2 separate regions of the Homo sapiens genome follow, and region 2 is linked to region 1. Evidence: fine-mapped expression QTL. A gene starts in region 1. The other region holds a variant in brackets. All regions are shown on one strand. Distances are between the middles of the regions.

Region 1 (8,000 bases):
TCGTTTTTCATTTGCCTTGACTGGTTAGGAAGGTCAAATGAATGCATGGCCCAACCATAGCAATTATAGACCCAATGGATGGCCGTTCAAAGGAACTTATATTTTCCCTGTCCTGGTAGCTTCATTTTATTTTTAGGTTTTGTTTATTGTTTGATTAAACATTACACATATTTTCTGTAAGTCATCTCAAATCCTTTCTCAAAGGACACAGGGTAAAAATAAACAAACAAAAAACCCTGAATGATACTGGAAATTTTTATTAGATCATCTTTTGAATCTTCCAACAAGTGTTGGACTAAAATTATGTATTAGTATTTCATGTATGTCTAAACAGCTTTAATTGCTTGGGGTTAAGATAAATGTTTAGGAGGTTTTGGTGGGTTGAGGGTAACAGAACACTTTACAATATTCAGGAATTTAAAGTACTTTTTCTAAGAATAAAAAAATTATTTATACTGTAATTCCCAACCAAAACTTCCCATTTATAATGATAAGGTTTAGGGAAATGTACTAAAAGACTATGACATTTTCAGTCATAGGTGATCTAAAGATGCATGTTATCATTTCTTAAAGGAAGAGAAATTTATAGTAGGAAGAATGCACATTAAAGCAAAATGCTATTGCAAACAATTTTGAATGGAAACAGCATGGGGTAGATTTCAAAATAGAGTTTATATAAATTTTATTTTAATGCCAAAACAATACCCACCAAAGTGGCTTGCTTGCAGGGCTTCCTCCAGTAGCCTGAGTGTCTAAAGCAGTGGTTCTCAAACTTAAGCCAGCTCAGGATCACTGAGGATTTTGTCAAATACAAGTCTCGGGTAGGGCTGGGTGATTTGAGTATCTGACAAGTTCCTATGTGATGCTGAGGCTTCAGGTCCAGGACCATGCTTTGAGAACCACCAGCAAAGAGCACGAGCTTGTTCCTTAATAGAGATAATTATAGCTTTCTTCAAGTTTTACAGTTCCTTAGAATGTGACGTTTTCTGCATGCATACTATATTAGGCAACGTGATTACAAATTATATTGTTTTTGTTACAGCAACTTTGATTTTTAACATTAACAGCAAAATGGAAAGATTTTATGTCTTTAATATGCTAGCAATTCACATTCATTGCAAGAAGTTAAAACAATTCATATTGAAATATATGAAACAGAAAATAAACATTCTTCACCCAAACTACTTCTCAAAGATAACCACTGTTAACCATTTGCGGTATAACCTTCCATAATTTTTTTCTCTGCAGTTTTAAGCTTATATATGCAAATGGATATATCTTTATTTTTGCAAAATAACCAGCCCTGTAATCTGAGTTCACATATACGTAGAACGTATGTAGAATTGTCTGCATAATATTCTACCACATGGATGGGCCACAAATTATTTAATCTCTTCCCTCAACTGAGAGACACATTGTTTCCTTCTTTCCAGCATTAGACACAATGTACTTAATGGTAAAAATATTTTGAACATCTTTTGTGATTTGAGAAACTTAAAACAATTTACATGTTATATGGGTAAGCAATTATAATATGAAAGATGACTGTTTTGTACTTTTTTTTTTTTTTTTTTGAGACGGAGTCTTGCCCTGTCACACAGGCTGGAGTGCAGTGGCGCGATCTCGGCTCACTGCAGGCTCTGCCTCCTGGGTTCACGCCATTCTCCTGCCTCAGCCTCCTGAGTAGCTGGGACTACAAGCGCCCGCCACCGCGCCTGGCTATTTTTTTGTATTTTTAGTAGAGACGGGGTTTCACCGTGGTCTCGATCTCCTGATCTCGTGATCTGCCCGCTTCGGCCTCCCAAAGTGCTGGGATTACAAGCGTGAGCCACCGCGCCCGGCCTGTACTTTACTTTTTAAGACTTTATGAATGATATTGACAAAAAGAATGTCTTCTACTCACATTACGGTTTCCTTCTGTGGAAGCTTCAGGGGTATATACATATATAATTGGACTAATGTGATCATTTCAAAATGTCCAATATATTCTTTAATCTATGTCATGGATTTAGGTTGTGGACCTTGATCGTGGGTTAGTATTGAATGCAGAAGGAAGGTACCTCCAAGATTCACATGGAAATCCTCTTCGGATTAAACTAGGAGGAGATGGTCGAACCATTGTAGGTAAGGGAGAATGGTTTTTAAAGAATAAAAGCCTACTGAATTAGCCATAGAATTACAGCTTCTATCTTCCTTCTCCCCCTCATTTATAATGAATGGTCATGGGTTAGTTACTTTTACCCATGTGAGAAGAAGAGCCTCAAAAGAGGCAGAACTTGGTGTTTCCCCCAGAGAGCGTTAGTTCTCTTCCTGCAGGCTGCACCCTCTAGAAAATGTGGCCCTTTACTTTGTTCTTAAATTGGCCCTTTCAGAGGAGGGGTCCGCAAACTACAACCTGTAGGTTGTAGCCCACTACCTATTTTTGTAAGACCCATGAGCTCAGAATAGTTTTTACATTTTTAAATGATTGCCAGAAAAAAGAATATTTTGTGGCATGGTAATTACGTGAAATGCACATTTCAGTGTCCATACGCAAAGTTTTACTGGAACACAATACACTCACTTAATTATGCACTGTCTAACTCATTTTTTATGTGTTGTTTATGTATTGTCTATCTTCTTTTTTGCACTCTAAAAGCGGATTGAGTAGCTGCAATAGAGACCATACGGCCTATGAGGCTTAACATATTCGCTTCCTGGCCCTTTACAGAAGAAGTTTTCCACCTTTAATCCAAAGTAACACTTTTCCCCCTTAGGCATAGGAATGAGGCAAAGGAAAGTATTTCTTCCTTTGCTAGACACAAGAGTTATCTCAGGATCGTGGAGCATACTGATGCAATATTCATTTATCCCTTTGCCTTTTACTGATTAAAACATGATAATACATAAGCTTTGAGAAGACACTTATTGCTTGCTTTTTATTTTCTCTGGATTGCTTCACCTTGTTGCATAGCTATTGGTTGATTTTGTTTCAGATCTGGAAGGGACCCCCGTGGTGAGTCCTGACGGCCTCCCACTCTTTGGGCAGGGGCGACATGGCACACCTCTGGCCAATGCCCAAGATAAGCCAATTTTGAGTCTTGGAGGAAAGCCGCTGGTGGGCTTGGAGGTCATCAAAAAAACCACCCATCCCCCTACCACTACCATGCAGCCCACCACTACTACGACGCCCCTGCCTACCACTACAACCCCGAGGCCCACCACTGCCACCACCCGCCGCACGACCACCACCCGCCGCACGACCACCAGGCGTCCAACAACCACAGTCCGAACCACTACGCGGACAACCACCACCACCACCCCCACACCCACCACTCCCATCCCCACCTGTCCCCCTGGGACCTTGGAACGGCACGACGATGATGGCAACCTGATAATGAGCTCCAATGGGATCCCAGAGTGCTACGCTGAAGAAGGTAACTGCCTTTGTTCTAATGCTAACTACTTACCAGGCACACTAGCACGCCGCAACTCAGAGCAGGGTGGCAGAGCCTGCAGGGGAGGTATGAGCACCGTGCACAGCAAAGCAGCAACCCGATGCATTTTTGGTCCCAGCAGGTTTGTTTGACAGTACCATGCCACAGCTAAGGTTGGAAGACTTAGCAAATAAAAATATTACATGGGACATATTTATATGAAAAAAATTATTTCCTGTTCACTTAAAGTCAGATTTAACTGGGCATCTTTTGTTTACTTGGTGATGCTTATCACAACCCAAGTCAAGAATTTAGCTGAAACTTGTGACATTATTTGTTTGGACTAGCATTTCCCAAAGTGTGTTCCAATGGATATTGTAGATTAGTGGTTGTAATATATATGTATATACTTAAAAGGTTCTGTGATTAGCTATGTGATTTAAACAAGGTTGGATAAGTTTCTTACTGTTGTAATACTTAGATCACTGAATAGTCTTGTTGAGAATCTCCAAGAAAAGGAATGTTTCCCTAGCATGTTCGGCAGCTGAGCACTTTTTTGATCAGCCCTCCTTTGGAGAATGCCAATCCTCATGTAGCTGGGCTTCCTGTGGGAGTGTGGGCTTTCCACTGGGTAAGAATGCACCATTTTCCCTTCTCTGCTGATCTGCACTATCCTGCCGCCCCTGATGTAAGTCTGTCTTCCTTCTGAAAATGGCTTGTTCTCCCTGAAGAGCAGGAGCTAGGAGACCTTTATCCAGGTCATCGTGGAGCCCGTATATCAATATATCTCCATCTTTTCTGCTCAGTCCCCTGCTCAAGCTGCTTTGGAAGAAGTCATTCTAGATTTGCATCAGGCATGGAGGAGAGAGATTCATCTTCTTTCCCTCAGTTTGAAATGAATTGCAATGTCAATTATAAAGCTTAAGTCTTTTTAAACCAAGGCAGAGTGAAGATGTTTCCTTTCAGGAATCAAGCTGGAATTCTTATGCAACGTTATTGACTATGATAAGCCCAATCAGTTTGAACATGAATACTGTATCCAAAATGGGAATTCTGTTGGAAGTTAGTCTTTCCGTGAAAAAGTTACAAATAAACAGGAAAACTTGACACATCTAAAAAATTCACACCAAAAAAACATGGAAACACGTACAGAGGGAGAGGAACAATGGGAAGAAAATTTCTACTCTGTCCATTGACCCAGTGAGTATAAATTTGAATTTACCTTTGAATTTCTAGTATTGACATCTGACCTCTGCATGCATTAATGTGTTTAATTTTAAAGACTGAAATATAATTAAAACATAATTAGTAATTGGTCGTAAACAAAAATTGACTATTTTGGATTTGATTTTAATTACGGCTGCTATTATTTCACATTTTATTTTGTCTGCTTTTATTTAGGCCTTCCAACATGTTCTCTTCATCTACTTTATATTTTTGGACTTTTATTTGGCATGAAAGTCAATATTTTTCCTGGCATTTTTGCCTCTTATTTTCTTTGCAAATCATAACATATATATGTTCACTCCTGTCCAGTCTCCTGATTCCCTAGTCGAAGCTAAAGAATAATTTTCCTCTGGACAGCATTTGAAAATAAGTACAAATCAATACACAGTCTTATGGAAAAGTTAAATGTGGGGACAGTAACATATCATCCTCATATCGCATTTTAATGCACTATAATTTGTTAGTTTAAAAAGACTTCCATATGCCCTTTCTTATTTCTACTGTTTCACTAACAACTTCATTAAACATTTTCTTCTTTATTAACTGTAATCATAGTTATTTTTATCTTTTAATCTTTTTAAACCACTTTCTTGATGTATGCATAGAAAAAGTTCTGCATATTTAATCCATACATGTCGATGAGTTTGGGATAAGAATACATTCACAAAATCATCATCCCGCTAAGGCCACAGACACATCCATCACCTCCCAAAGTTCCCTCCCACTCCCACTCCTTTATTGTTAGTATTCTTCTTTTTTCTTTCTTTATAGTAAGAGCACTCACCATGAAAGTGGTATTTTTTTGTGATAAGAAATTAAATTTTTACTATTACAAAGATACATGCACATGTATGTTCATTGCAGCACTATTCACAATAGCAAAGAGATGGAGTCAACCCAAATGCCCATCAACGATAGACTAGATAAAGAAAATGTGGTCCATATACACCATGGAATACTATGCAGCCATAAAAGGAATGAGATTATGTGCTTTGCAGGGACATGGATGGAGCTGGAAGCCATTGTCCTCACCAAATTAACACAGGAACAGAAAACTAAACACCGCATGTTGTCACTTGTAAGTGGGAGCTGAACAATGAGAACACATGGACACAGGGAGGTGAACAACATACAGTGGCGCCTGTCAGAGGGTCAGGTAGGGGAAGAGAGAGCATTGGGAAAAATAGCTAATGCATGCAGGGCTTAATACTTAGGTGATGGGTTGATCTGTCCAGCAAACCACCATGGCACATGTTTACCTGTGTAACAAACCTGCACATCCTGCACCTGTACCCCAGAACTTAAAAATAAAAATTAAAAAAAGAAATTAAATTTTAAAAATGTATTAATACTAGCTCTGTTGAGATAAAATTCATATACCATAAAGTTCATTCTTCTAAAGTTAGTGGATGTTAATATATTTACAGTTGTGCAATGATCACCACTATTAGATTCCATAATATTTTCATCACCCCAGGAGAAACTCCGTACTCATTAGCAGTCAGCCCTCATTCCTCCCTCCTCCCAACCCATGGAAACCACTAACATACTTTCTCTCTCTATGGATTTACCTATTTGGGACATTTTGTATAAATGGAATCATGTCATATGTGGCTTTTTGGGTCTGGCTTCTTTCACTTAGCATAATTGTTTTCAAGATTCATTCACATTATAGAATACATCAGTACTTCATTTTTTTTATTCCATTGTATGGATATACAGCATTTTTTCCATTCATCAGTCAGTGGTCATTTGGGTTATTTCCACTTTTTGGTTATTGTGAATAATGCTGCCTTGAACATTTGTTTTGTTTGTTTGGTTTTGTTCTACTTGATCTGACTTCTCTGTTGGATAATAAACTCCTTGCAGTTGAGACAATGTCTTCTGCTTCATCTCTAATTCCTTGTGGTACCTAAGTATGTACCTTTGGATATCCAAGCAAGACCTTAAGGTATAGGCATTTTCCATGTCCTAAAAGCCAGTGCTCTTTTTTTTTTTCAGGTTCTGTATCTACAGCAAATCTGATAATAGATGATATATATGGAATGTGATGAGCCAAATGAACATCTTCAAGAATTTGTAGCATGACCTTGTTAAAAGTTGCAGAAAAACATCAGTCATTATGGAAAACAGATCTTCCCCACCACAGCTGGGTCTCCAGATAGAAAATACTGAGAAATTCAAAAATTCATTTGAGCTGGACCAACTGTACAATGTGCAAATATCCCTGAGTTTCAAATGGCTGTCATTTACCTTCTGTCTCTAAACTTCTACTGAGAATAATTTTTAAAAATATTTTGTAATATCTCTGGAGCAAAAGCCTTACTTCTTTGGTGACATTTTTCACTTATTTTTTTCATGTCTACTTGATAAACTACTGAAGAGAATAAACAAAACGACTATGGTTGATGGCTGGCAACTATGTTTATGTGAAGAGGCTGAAGCTTTTCACATTGGTGCTGAGTTGACTTGTAAAATATCCAGTTTTACATAGTTCTGAATGGTTTAAAATGACATTCAGGTGGGCCAAAGTAAGGTGGTCAACTTTTTTTTTTAATTGTAAATATATTTCATTACATCTGAAAGTTATTTTTACTTGGAGCCAGGATGGTTCTATTTTAGAAAAATTATGCCTATGTTTATTTGGTCTTAAGAAAAAGAACACCAAAATCACCCAGTAGATTGTTTACTTAATGCCAGAGGACTTAACTGTCACTCATCTCAGGAAGTGAACTCATTTGCTGGTAAAAGCATCATTTCTGTGGCCTGCTGCATGCACTGGAGTATTTCAGCACCTCAAGGAGTTACCCATAACACCAGAGTCCATGAAGGAAATGATATACTTTTCCCTTTTCTTGTTCACCCTGTGATGCAAAAACCTTACAATGTATTTATTTTTTATCTGGCGAAAAGCAATAATGAAAAGAAATGACACTGAACTGATAATGAGGAAAAGCAAGACGACATTCCTAAAGGTTAAATTGACAAGGGAAAGAAAATGGTAGGCCAGGAAACAATGGCAAGATAATCCCAAAGTTTACAGGGTGTGAACCTGAAAACTGATTTGAATAAGCTCAGAAGTAATTTGTCTTGGATCCCAGGTATATTGACATTGGAATGACCAAAGGAAAGTTTGTGTTTAATACTTTTTCATGAAATGGCCATTCCACCCCTAAACGGATGGATAATTTACAACTTCTCTCTGCTTAACATTCATTGGCTGCATCAGAACACACCAGAGTCATTGCCTCAAGGGCCATCTCTTGGGCCTCAGAATAGGAGCTGGGGGCTTCTTACTGTGATCCCAGGAGGGCTGGACAGACTACTCGAGGTTGCCATTGCCCTTTGTGGGTGGAG
Region 2 (13,281 bases), 200 kb after region 1:
ATATTTCAAGGAATGTTATATAATGTCATAATGTAATGAGGGTTTGTGTGCTCTATGATGCTATGACAATTTGCAAGATTAATCCATTCAGTCTCCCATTTTTCCAGGCAGGGATTCTCATCAGGAATTCTCATCAGGGATCTGTTGAACTTAGAGGAATCTAGAAACCTGAAAGTTTTGCAAATTATTAGTTTCCGTAATTTTTCTGGGGAATGGTTCTGAAGCTTCCAGCAGCATCTCAATGGCATTTCCCAATTCTGCAAAGATTAAGAACTGCAGATTAAGGCAGATAGATTCCAGAAACTTTCGCTTTAAAGTTCTGACTTGGCAGGCAATTGGGAATCTTTCCACAGAGTGCTTTCCTCAAAAGGATAAAATAGTGACTTTATCAGACTTTCCAGTAGCCCCAATATTGCATCAAGCCCTTTCCAGGCAAGAATCCATATCCTCTTATCATTTCTCTTATGATCGGGTTTAAAGTTTTCTCACCCTCCACCAGTTGCTTCTAAGTATGCCCTGACCTGTCAATTTCTCCTTAATGCATGGCACCATAAAGTGAGCACTGCAATCCAGGATGAGTCGACCCATGAGGAAGCAGGCACTGCCCACCTTATTTTGAACACTTTGTTTCTGTTATAAAACCAAAGATCCCAAGAAGTTTTTTGAAAGATGCGTAATCCTTTTGTCTGGCAGGGATTTTTGACAAGTAAATTTCCTAAATCTTTCCTCATGTGTTACCTCTGAACTCAGTCACTTTCGACTTATCTCATATGTATACACTTGAGTGTTAGAAGACTAAAGAGCAGGATTTTATATTTATCTCTTTTAAATTTTATCTTGTCTAATTCAGTAAATGTTTAGCAAAGTGCATCAAAGTATTCTGGAAGCTCAATTTCTCATCCAACGTTAATAGTTGTCCCTCCCAGCCTCGTGCCACTCATGGGTTTATTTATCATGATCTCAAAGGCCTATCCAAGTCTCTGGTTTCCATATGGACAGGAGCAGGAGACCAAAGACTAGCAGCTCCTCCTATCTGATGCTGATTTAGGTTGATCAATGAATCAATGCTCTTTAGCTTTAAAGCATTCAACCAATTGTCAATTCAGCAGATTAAAATGAAATTCAGCCCATATTTCTCCATCTTGGCAATTTGAATATCAGGCAATTTTTTAAGAAACTTGCTGAAACCTAGATACTCTTCTTATGCATAGCATTCTTAGATATTTTCCACTCTACCTCATGACAACTATTGCAGAGAGACAGATTTTGGCTTAACAAAGCTGCTTGGGGCTGGAATACACCTGCTTCAGGTGGTGAGGTCTGTCATTGAAGGTTGAAAACATCTGGCTGGAATAAAATAGGAAATAAATAGGAATAAAATAGGAAAGATTTGGGTATCAAACAAGAGATTGAATTCTGTATCTGTATAGTGACTTGAGACTCTGAACATTTTTGACTATAAATGATGCTTCATGGGTGTTGAGTAAGTCAAATGGTAGCTTCGGGTAAGATTTGATTCAAGGATCAATGATGTCATCATGATCCCTTTCTGTTCTTCTTTTGTGTGCCAGAGTGGTTCTCAGGCTGTCTCCCCTTACTGTAGTCAGTTGGCTACAGCACCTTACTGAGCCCAGAGGAGAGGAGAATGTCTATAGTCTAGCATGCCTTGCAAACATATTAAGACTTGCACTGATTTAGACTGGATTAGGTCATGTGTCTATCCTGCAACAATCACTGTGGCCACAGAGATGAGACATGCTGTTCTGGTTATCTATTGCAACATAACAAATCACTTATCTCCCATGGTTTCTGTGGGTTAGGAATTTGAGTAAGCTCAGCTAGGTGACTTTTCCTGGGGCCCCTCATGGATTTGCAGTCAGATGGTGGTTGGGGCTAGAACAGTGGTGGGGAAGAGGAGTCGATGGTGCTAGGAGCTACCTGGCCATCTTTTTTTCCTTAAGGCAGTCTTGAGGCCTCTCTATGTGGTCTCTCCAATTGTGCCAGTTTGGGCTTCCCCACAATATGGAGGCCTCCGGGCCATGAGACTGCTTGCATACAGTGTCCCAGGAGAATAAGGTGTAAGTTTTTGGCATTTCTGTGGTCTAAACTCAGAAATCACATAATGTCTCTTCTGCCCTACTCTATTGGTTGAAACAGTCACAAAAACCCACCCATATTCAAAGGTAGGGTACATAGACTCTATCTCTTGATGGAAGAGGGGCAAGATTCTAGAAGAAACTTCTAGAAGAACAGTCATCCTTGGAAAATATAATCTTTCACATATGCTAATGGGCTTAATCCAATCAAAACGTGGCCCTAAGCTAAAAGCCCAAAAACAATATCCCAAAGTAAGCCTGGTTGATTGGGCATGGTGGCTCACACCTGTAATCCCAGCATTTTGGGAGGCTGAGGCAGGAGGATCGCTTGAGCCCAGGAGTTCAGGACTAGCCTGGGCAATATACTGAGACCCCATCTTTTTAAAAATTTTTAAAAAATATATCAAAGTAATCCAGGCTGTTATAGATGGGAGAAGAGGGGTGTAGATGGCAGAGAACAATCCCTCCTTCTATGTGAATGGGGACCAAAGCACAGGTGCAGAGGGATGAGGTCACTGTATTCTACCTACTTTAATTTTTTAATACAGATTTCTAAAACTACTTTATCATATGACAGATTTTGCCAAGAACTTATATTTACAACCAAAACTAAACACAACAGTGTTTGATTTTTTAAAAAGAAAACATTAAGTTACACATCATTAACTTAGATCTGCCAATGGAGAATCCATCTTGATGCATTAGGCTGAGTTTTCTTTGTGCTGGTTATAAACCGATTAATGGTATTAACAAAGGTGGGGGATCAAGGAACTATTTTAAGGGGATGAACAACTAGCTTTAATGTTGCTGAAGAGAAAAGGTGCTAATTATAAATATTTCTGAGAATCTGTTCATTAAACACTTTTGAGATTACAAAAGTTATTTCTTGTCTGCATTCTGTTATAAAAGTTTTAAATTCAAGTAAGAATTCAGTAAATACAGATAAAATGTGTACAGAATAAGGCTTATTTCTTTAAAAATAGTCAATAAATCAATATTTTTGTGGTTTTGTCAAAGTGACATTGACTTACTCCTAATTAGGATCAGGCTTTATATATTGTTTTTAATTGGGAGAAATATGTACCAAAATAAATATGAGATTTATTATTATAAATTCATATTTAAAAGGTAAAAAACTGCTGTGTGTCTGTGGCATTGCTGTTTTAAAGATTTCCTTGCATCCCCCCAAGAATGGCAGATAGTGTAATTACAGTATTCCTGCTGTGAACTTTTCTTTGTTTTCTAAATACAGTAAGTGTATCCGAAAACTTATTAAAATGAAATCCCCCTACCCTCTCACTCTTCGTGACTGTCAGCTTCCGATAAGCCCATACTGATGGTACTGATGGCGGCCAATTGCCCCTTGGCATTTGCTTTATTATAATTGCCCAATGGGTTCATCCTGCCTGCTGCACAGATAAAACCAATCTTCTGAGACAGCAGTATTACAGTAGAGAAAGAGTTTAATTATCACAGGACTAGCCAAGTGGCAAATGGGAGTTTATGACTCAAATCAGTCTCCCTGAGAATTCAGAGGCTAGGGTTTCTCAAGGCAGGGGACTAGGGAATGGGGAATGCTGATTGGTTGGGTTAGGGATAAAATCATAGCTGTCTTCTTACACTCTGTCAGTTCCTGGGTGGGATTGCAAGGTCAGATGAGCCAGTTTCATGGTATGGGGTACCAGTCCAGGTGGCACCAGCTTGTTCATTGGAATGCAGTCTGAAAAATACCTCAAGTACCAATCTTAGATTTTGCAATGGTGATGTCACCTATAGGAGCAAATGGGGAAGTTACAAAGCTTGTGACCTCTGGCTACAAGGCTCCTGAACCATAATTCTAATCTTGTGGCTAATTTGTTAGTCTTGCAAAGACATATTTGGTCCCTGAGCCAGGACGTAGTTAGTTTCAAGAAGAGACTGTTATCATCTTTGCTTTAAAGTTAAACTAAATTCCTCCCACAGTTGGCTTGGCCTATGCCCAGAAACAAACAAGGACAGCTTGGAGGTTAGAAGCAAGGTGGAGTCAGGTCGGATTTCTTTCATTGTCATAATTTTTCTATGTCAGATTTTTCTCACTGTCATAGTCTTTGCAAAAGCAGTTTCATTGAACTCCATTCTGCTCATGGAACAGTAGCTGCCAAGACTGGAGCTGGGGTGTTAAATGCGTGGAAAGACACTCAGCCTATGCCTCCCTCTACCCGCCAACACCCACAGCCTGCCTGTCAACAGCCCCATGCTCAATCATCCTAGGAATCTGCTCTACTGCTCTACTGTTTGGCGGTGGCTCTAGATTACTGAAGCTTTCTTCTCTCAAATGCTTGCTGTGCCAACAGTGTGTTTAACAAGGAACAGCTAAGACATTGAGTGTTCAAACAATGGTCAATTGTTGGGTCTGTATGAATTCAAGCAGCAGACTTGCCTGATTGCTTCATTTTTCTTTTTACCAGTTTGACTAACACCGCCTATTATTTTAACATTAGGTAGACTTTTTTAGTCACAAAAACCTACTCTCCATTTTTTAATGCCTTGCTAGATATACTTATTGTTGAATGTATGGTTTCTCTGCCTGTTAGCAGTGTTTTACCAGCTTTTGCCAACACAGCTTGTGCCCTATCTGCAGAGGACAAAGAAATGCAGAGGCCTAGAGAACAAGTCCATGCTCTCCCGTTCCCTGTTCAATGTCACAAGAGAGGCGCTCCCACACACCCTGTTGCACTGGAATGGACACAGAACCCTCAAGCTGTCAACAGTGACTTCCCACCCTGGGACCCCCTTCCCTCTCCCCTCTTCTGGCCTCCCCAGTCACTTCCAAGTTCCCATTTCTTCCACTTCTTCCAAATAATGCCTGCCCATCTTCACAGTGAGCACCTGGACACCACACTCACCTTCTCACCAGAAGTGCGAGTATCTCAGAGAGCGTTTCAAGGCAAGCCAAGGGGCAGAGCAACAGTGACTCTGGTGGCTAGTCCAAAGGCAGTGGAAAGTGGCCACTTCCCTGGGAGCCATAAGAAGGACCTTACAGTCTCACTTGGGCCCCATGAAGCTCTGGAGTATCATTCAAGGACTCCACATTTAGATTCTCCAAATGGCCAGAAATGTGCTGATTAACAGTTCACGAGGAACCACGTGGGTGCCGTAGGGTGCTGAAGGTTGCATGGCTGCGAGAAGATGTTCAAATATACCTGATAGGTGCTTCCTGCCCCATCCCACAGTATTAACCACGTGTTTCTGAAATTTTGACACCTAGATCCTCACTGACACTGGAGGGACTGCTCCCCCCAGGGCTAGTCAAGTCCTAGAGACAGCAAATGACTCCCCCATGAGTGTGCCCTTCATGTGCAAACCACACAGTCCAGAGCCCACATGCAGACCCTGTCTCCTCTAGCAGGCTCTGCCATGCTGGGCCTCTATTCCCCTGCCGTAATCACCCCAGGGCCAGGTGCCAGACAACTGGAAACAGCCCCTATGCCCCAGACCCAACAGAAATTATTCACACTAGCCGGTCCTAAGCCTGCTCATCCTATCTCCCCAGTTTCTTCCCTCGGAAACCTCGGCCGAGGCTCTTGCCTGTGTTTCCTCTAGCTTCTCTGCCACCTGCCCAACCCTGGTGCTTCCGCATGGGGCCCTGAGCATCATAGTGTGACCCTCCTCTCGGGAACTGAGTGACAATGGCAATCGTCTCATCTGTTGGCTTCACCGCACCTGAAAACCTACAATTTACACCACCAACCCCACTTTCTGCCAGAAAAATCTGTCCTAACCAGCTCCTCTGGCTGGGTTTATACATATTCTTATCACAGCTGCCAAGATCATGGTCACCAACAGGTCTTATCTGTGCAAAGGGGATAATGATAGAGCGAGGATGGTATGAAGAGCACGCTAGGCACACGCAGTGAGCTCTCAGCCCGGGTCTGGCGCTGGGAGGTGCTTGGTGCATCTCAGCTCTGATTACGATGATGACAAACTGTGCACCTCAAGGCCTCCAGGTCACCTCTGAGTGCCAGACACTTCCCATTCCAGCCCCTGTGCATTATCCTGAGCAATGCTTGTCTGCCTGTTAACACCAGCTCTGCAGATGAGAAGCCTCTCAAAACCCTTCCCCTGCACACCTCAGCAGGAGCAGCTGCTGCAGCGACACTGGGAACCCTCGAGTCTGAAGCCGGTGGGGAAGGGGCTCAGAATCTGCTTACCTGAGAGCTCAGGGAGCCTCCAGAGAGATGATTCACCTCACCTGGAGAGAGACAGCCAGAAAGGGCTGCTTACCCAGCAGCCGCTCCTCTGCCGTGCAGGAGAAACAGCAATTCTTTCCCTTAGATTTGTCTCTGGCCCAGAACCACC[T/C]CCATCTGATTCCTGAGGAGAGACGGAGGTGGGAACGGGGGTTTAGGGGTTATGGTTGAAGCTGAATGAGCTTCTTTCTCTTAAAACTCCAAACATCAACATTCAAGGCAGTACAGCTGACGGAACACAAAAGAACATCAACAAATATTGGACTCCAGTTAATGACATGTGTGGGAACAAAGGCACTGATGTTTGCAGCTGACTTTGAAAAGTCTAAAAACAATAAGCTGGATGGATGGGTAGCTGCACAGATATGTGGAAAGGAAAGAGAGCTGACGGCCAACAGCTGCGATGTATCTAGATGTGGCTATGTGAACCACCGTATAATTCTTTACATTCTTCTGTATGTGTAAAATATTGGGGACAAAAGGGACCAGAGACATCTTCCTTCTTCAGCATGGAAGGCAGAGTGGCCCTAGTATCCCGGGCATTCCAGGCCTCCGCAGCAGGAATGGAGGCAGATGGCAGCCAAGCAGCTGGGGAGCCGGGCAGTGGCAGGGGCACCTGGCAAAAGGGGCTTCGCTGCGGAGCACCCGAATCAGTGCAGGGCATCTTGGAGAGCTTCACAGGAGGGGAGCCCCCACTGCCGAGCAAAAGAGGGAGAAAATGTTGGGGCCACACAGTGCAGGGTGGACTTGCTCAAGAGCCCCCTGGAGACCCATCCCAGGACTTATCTGAAGACACTTTGCAGATGTCTTGACCCCTGCATTAAGAGACCCAGTGGAACACTGGTTATAGCTAGAAATGCACATATTTCCCAAAATTACTCTACAGATTTGTTTCCATCAGGAAATTTCAAATCCTCAAGTATAATTATATTTGACTTTTTTGAGATGAATCTTCTTTTTGTAAAGTATCACTTCCTCTGGAACAGCAGGGTTATTATTTAACAAGTTTAGCAAAAAACAAACAAAAAAAAACATTTCAAATAGAACGTAATCAAAGTTCTCTCCCTGATCCATCCCAATTGTATACTTCATCTTTTCAATGATGAATTGGATTCCTGTCTATGAAGCCCAGAATCCATTAAACTCCCCAAACTGGGTCTTAGTCACAGCACAACTGAGAAGCCATGTTTCAAACATGGAAGTGAGAATGAAGGACTTGACTTGCCAAATTACTGCCACACAAGCCCGATTTTCTCTACTAGCGGAGGCAGACCAATGGGAAGTGAACACCGAGGTCCATTTGTGAGTGAGCTCCCAATCCATGAGCAAAATAGTTTTGAAAACTTTAGGGAAACATTTGAATATTTTCCAGATATTAAGGACTCTTCCAACTTCTTTATTCAAATCCAAGTATGAATGACTCAAAAACATTAATTGAATCTTCCCACATGGACCAAGTTTTTTAATGAACATAAAAAAGTATGACTGATTGACATGCAAAAACTAGATGCAAAGATACAGAAGACTAATTTCTTACATCTCTCATGGACAAGATACTTATATCTTAATTACTTTGATTCTGTTCATTTGTAATAGGTCTCCTAAACTATTCACCAGCCAGCAATTTCTTATTTTGCAAATGCTGTCAGCCATCACTGGGGCTGGGTGGTATCAATAGGACAGAATGGTGGAGGGAACTCAACCGACACACAGGTTCTTTCCAGCTGGGTGTGCAGGATCAGGCTGATGCAGGTTGTGCTCTCAACTTTCACATAAATCACTGCAGAGGTGGCTGGGGCTCAGAGACCAGACAGACACATGGTGAGAGGAAATGCAAAGGAGATGTCGGCAAACAGGACAGCATCCTGAGCACCTGGCAATAGAAAGTGCCAGCTGGTAGGGACAGGGGCTCCCAGAGGCCAGGCAGGAACATGCTCAAGGGAACATGACAAGGATTCCTGCAGAGATTGAGTCACAAAGACCCAGCAGAGCACAGTCGCTCTGTGCTCAGAGTAGGAAGCTGAAAGCGGTCCTGAGTTAACATCATGAAATCCCCCCTTGGGAGACAGAACCAGCCTCAGAGGCTGGGGGCAAGGCTGACCCTAGTGGTAACCCATGGTGGGGTCACAAAGGCTATGACAGGAGCCTGTGCATCAGATATTGTATTAGTCTGTTCTCATACTACTGTAAAGAAATACCTGAAACTGGGTAATTTATAAAGAAAAGAGGTCAAATTGGCTCACGATTCTGCAGGCTGTACAGGAAGCATGACTGGGGAGGCCTTGGGAAACTTTCAGTAATGGCAGAAGGGAAGCAGCACATCTTACATGGCTGGAGCAGAAGAAAGAGAGCTAAGGGGGAAGTGCTACACACATTTAAACAACTAGATCTCTTGAGAACTCACTCACTATCATGAGAACAGCAAGAAGGAACTCTGCCTCCATGATCCAATCACCTCCCATCAGGCCCCTCCTCCAACACTGGGGATTACACTTTAACATGAGACTTGGGCAGGGACACAAATCCAAACCATATCAGATACCAAGTCAAAGCTTTGGGGAAACAGGGGATCAAGTATGACCCTATCCGAACAGGAGTGTCCTGAAAACAGTATGTGTAGTTGTTTAAAATTAATTCTCTTAAAATTCAGCATGAAATGAGGTTAAATGAATAACTGTGGCTTACCGTAAAGAAGAAATGCTAGCAGGTTGGAGCTCACAAACTTCACCCCATGCCACATTTCAGTGGGCTGAGCACAGTGTAGGCCCTTGGTGTTTGCTGGTTAGTTCTGAAGCAGGCTTCTCCAGGAGCAGAGTCAGTGGTCAACATCCATGATGAGAAATGAGGCACTAATTATCTCACTAATGGTGAGACTCTGTCACCCTCACCCCACCCTCCCCTCAATCCAACATCAGTTTGGCATCGATGTTCAAACTCTCACAATTAAAGATTAATTCCTTTGACTTTAAGCTTTATCCGCTATTGCAATACTAACTACTGTAACGTTAGTAATGGTCCTTTACCACTGAGTAGACATGAATCCCTAAAAGCCTTCCTTGAGAACATTTTGATCGAGGAAAAGAAGCAGAGAGTGTAAAAATATTAGGAAACTGGTATGGCACCAAGAGGCATGTGTGCTACAGAGAAAGTCCCAGGGAGGGGGCCCAGGAGGCAGGATTCACCACCTCATGTTTTATCTAAGACCTTCTTTACTGGATATCTCACTTGATTTAAGAACAGAGCTAATGAACTCATACAGAGCATGAAAAAAGGTTCTTTTCCAGCACATTCACTTCTTTTTCCCCTTAACCCAGGCCAGAAACAATTTAAAAGATTTTGGCAAGAAATGAATGACTGTGCATAGCCAACCATCTCCCCTGGAAGGATAACTCAAAGGACAGTGCCTGCTGAGGGGTGTCAGGGTCTCAACTTCAAAGCCGAGTTGAGCCAGATGGGAGGGGCTGCCTCAGTATCCCTGAGGGGTCAATAGGGGAGCTGACCCTGCAGGGTACTGCCTGGGGTCACAGAACCCAGGATCTATGGCTGGACTTGAAAGCAGAATTGACTTTTGAGGCTAGGTAAAACTGAACTTTAGTCCAAGAAAGAGATGAATGTTGGGTCTGGGGAATGGAGCAAACGTCAAGAAGAGAGGCAGATAAATCGCACTGGTGCAGAAATAATGAAAGCAGGCATTCATCAAACACCCACTGAGGCCTGGGCTCAGCGAGCTACCCACCAGGCAGTCTTCAAAGTGCCTTAGGTATATCATTTATTTGAAGTCTCAAACAACTCCAGGAGGTGTTAACTACTGCTATCTTGATTTTATGGATAAGAAAGCTGAGGCTGAGAAGCTAAATGATTTAGTCAATTTGTTAGTAAAATTGCTAGTTAGTAAAAAGTTGAGATAGTGTTCCAAGCTAGGAGTAAAAGGTTTTATATAAATGAGAACGCACGATTTATTACTCTCTGAAAACTTCCTCTAGTGGCTGTTAGGAAAATATTATCAAAGGATTATGATTCCTTCTTTTCCAGAGAACTCTTGCTCTGAAGCCAACCTGTAAGGCGTCTCATTTGAGCCTGCAAATCTGGAAAAATCCTATTCTGGGTAATCCATTCACAGAAAACATCAAGGAACCAAAGCTTCTTATGTATGGACCTTAGATTTCCCCAACACCAGTGGGCAGTGCAGGGGTACATTCATGGCAGAGGCGGCCACAACTCCCATCCCCACTCCTCGGAGCTCTGGCCTCCAAGGGAAAAACACCTTTTGCTTGTGTGTGAAGTTTAGAAAGAGGTTAGTTTCTGAGTCCCACTGACCCCCAAAACTGGTTTCTTCTGAGACCCTAGGCATCAGGTTAATGTTATCAAACCTATGGAGAAAAAAGAATATAGATTTTGAGAGAAAAGTAGATAAATGTTCCGTTCATCCATTACTTAAAAAACAAAACAAAACACTACTGTACCTTGAAGAACTGCACATCCACTTTGTGTCTGGCATTTGCATTTTCACATTTCATTAGGGATGACTTGGCAGGAAGCAACCCACTCCTACGCACACAGGCTTGAGCAAATGGGGCACAAGGGAATCTCTCAGAACCAAAGGCAGGAAATTGAGTTGGGACACTCTCTCCATTCCCAGTCTCTGGCTGCAGTCAGGCAGCCTCTCTAGGCTTCTCTCTGCACACCTGCTCTATGGACCCCCTTGATGTCCACTCAGAGTTCCAACTCCCTCTTAGCTTCCGTTCCCGTGTGACTTTGGCTCATTGGGGTTCTGACACTGGCCTCGGCTCTACATGATCTGAAAAATCCAAGGCTCAACTACCTGACTTCAATTTCTGGGCTTCTTCATTTATAATCTCAAGAGTGAGTTAAACACGCTCACATGAGCCATTGGGGTCAGGCAGCTACTTCTGGTCCCCTCAGCTAAGGAAGAGTAGGGAGATAAAACTACTTAATATATTCTCCACCACCTAAGACCAGCCCTGCAACTGGGCTATGGGCAATTCCAAGTGGGAGGTGTGGCTGGCAAGTTTCTACAAGTGGGAGCTGTGGCTGGCAAGGTTCTAATTCTATTAGGTGGGCATTATTATTCTCATTTTGCATATGAGGCGAGAGGCTAAAAAAAATGTATTCACCATCACAGTATTAGTAGGTGTAGAAATGGAGTTTGAATTTAGGTTGGTTTGTATCTGTGACCTATTGCAGTGTAATAAACTCGCCCAATACTTGGTGGCTTAAAGTGAAACCCGCCCCATTTACTTGCAGTTCTGTGGGTTGGCTGGGCAGGGCTCGGCGAGGATGCTCAGCCCAGTTTCATGCATGTTGCACGTGTTCTCTCCTCTGGAAGACCCCAGATGGCCTCTCTCAGATGTCTGCCCTCCGCAGAGCCTCTCTCTACTCATGGTCTTTCATCTTCCAAGGCTTCTCTTTGCTTGTGGAGGCTCATTCTTAGGGTCCCTCTTTCTTGACATGGTTTCTCCAGCCAGCCCAGTCTGGAGGGGAAGGGCAATGAACTCTACCTGTGGATAGGAGTAGAGACAAAGTCACATGTCAAAAGGGCATCGGGACTGGCCAGGATTGTAGCAGCCATCTTGGGAAACAACCTCCACAGAATCCAAACCCATGCCTGTTATGCAATGCCAACACCCCCAAGGGCCTTCTGAGATCTTTGGAACGTCTTCCAAAGGCGGCCTGAATCCCAGACTACAACTCAGGGCTGAACATGACCTCTTTGACCAGCTTGGTGTCCTCTTTGAGCCGGCACTAAGTTAAACCAGGGGAATACACAAGTGAGTCAGGCACGGCCCCTGCCTTCCCAGAGATGTAGTCTCCTGAGAGAAGGACTCGATGCAGACAAGTTAGATCAGGCTCAATCCCCTCTGGAGGACAAGAACTTTCAATGCAGGAAGCATAAAGATTGCCAATTAGTCTGAGTCTATGAAGTACCTTCTTTTTCTTGGCAATGTGTTAGACTGCGCTACTCAAAGACCTTAGAAATAAACCTTTAAACTAGGTAGTTGCTAAATTCATAAGTTTTTAAAATGTAACATGATGTTTTTTAAGAAAAAAACATACCATCTCTACCTCATAAGCTGGAAACTCAGCCAGAAACAGAGGAGAGGGGTAGACAGCAGGCACAGACAGATGGGGATGCGTGCTCCTTCTATCAATGGCAGATGCCAAAAAGCCAAACACAAGGAAACCCAGGAGGAACCCACTGTGCTTTGACAGTGTCAGGTGGTAGGAGCCAGTCCCAGGGAGGGCAAAGTTCCCAGGGTGCTCACCCTGCTGAGCCTAGATCCTGTCATTGACGACAGCAAAGAGACGTTGACACTCATGCATCTCAGCAAGGCCATGGCTCGGTGCCTCCTCCATCCTTCTCAGACCTGATCTGAGATGGGTCTATCATTTATTTTAATTCTCAAACAACTCCAGGAGGTGTTAACTCCCTGCAGTCCACCATGGGGCCCCAGCATGTGACATTTTTCTGCCCTTGGATAAGCCTGCTTGTCCTTGAAAGCCTGGCTGCTTTCCTCAACCTGCCCGCTACTTTGCCAAGGTGAACCCAAGACTCACCTCCAGCTTGCTATTTATCCCCCATCCATTACTGAGGGCCTCCCATGAGCCATGCATAGAGCTACTCCAGAGGCACTAAAATACCAAGGTATTTCACTCCGGAAGCCCACAGCCTAGCAGCAAGGACAGAAATATACATTTTTATGTGGAAACCAAAGAATATCTAAAAGCTTGCCATTTAGCAACCAGTCATTTCTTGTTTCATTTACAATTTTTGGACTTGATTTTTTTTTTCTGTTTATGTGTGTGCACACACTGTGTTTTCAGAGGTTTTTGTAGGTGGTAAATCATACTGGGAGGTTCAGGAGCCGTGTCACTTGCAGAGGTGTCACTTGCAGAGGTGTCTGAGGGGCTGATCTTCGTGCTGCAGCCAAAAATACCGT

Evidence for each region. PIP is the estimated chance that this variant, and not a neighbour inherited with it, causes the effect.
Region 2: its variant is fine-mapped to the expression of FNDC1-IT1 in tibial nerve (GTEx, PIP above 0.99).

What each region holds. Positions count from the first base shown.
Region 1 is chr6:159,236,542-159,244,541 of GRCh38, forward strand. FNDC1-IT1 (FNDC1 intronic transcript 1) reads left to right here and starts at 4,211. Exons shown (of 2, transcript NR_046831.1): 1 at 4,211-4,616; 2 at 6,645-6,788. FNDC1 (fibronectin type III domain containing 1) reads left to right here. Exons shown (of 23, transcript NM_032532.3): 13 at 2,013-2,124; 14 at 2,976-3,416. RefSeq lists a silencer at 1,603-1,787.
Region 2 is chr6:159,430,196-159,443,476 of GRCh38, forward strand. No RefSeq gene overlaps it. Among named protein-coding and RNA genes, the nearest start is that of LINC02529, 53 kb to the left of the region's middle. The variant T/C (reference allele first, on the strand shown) is at 6,435.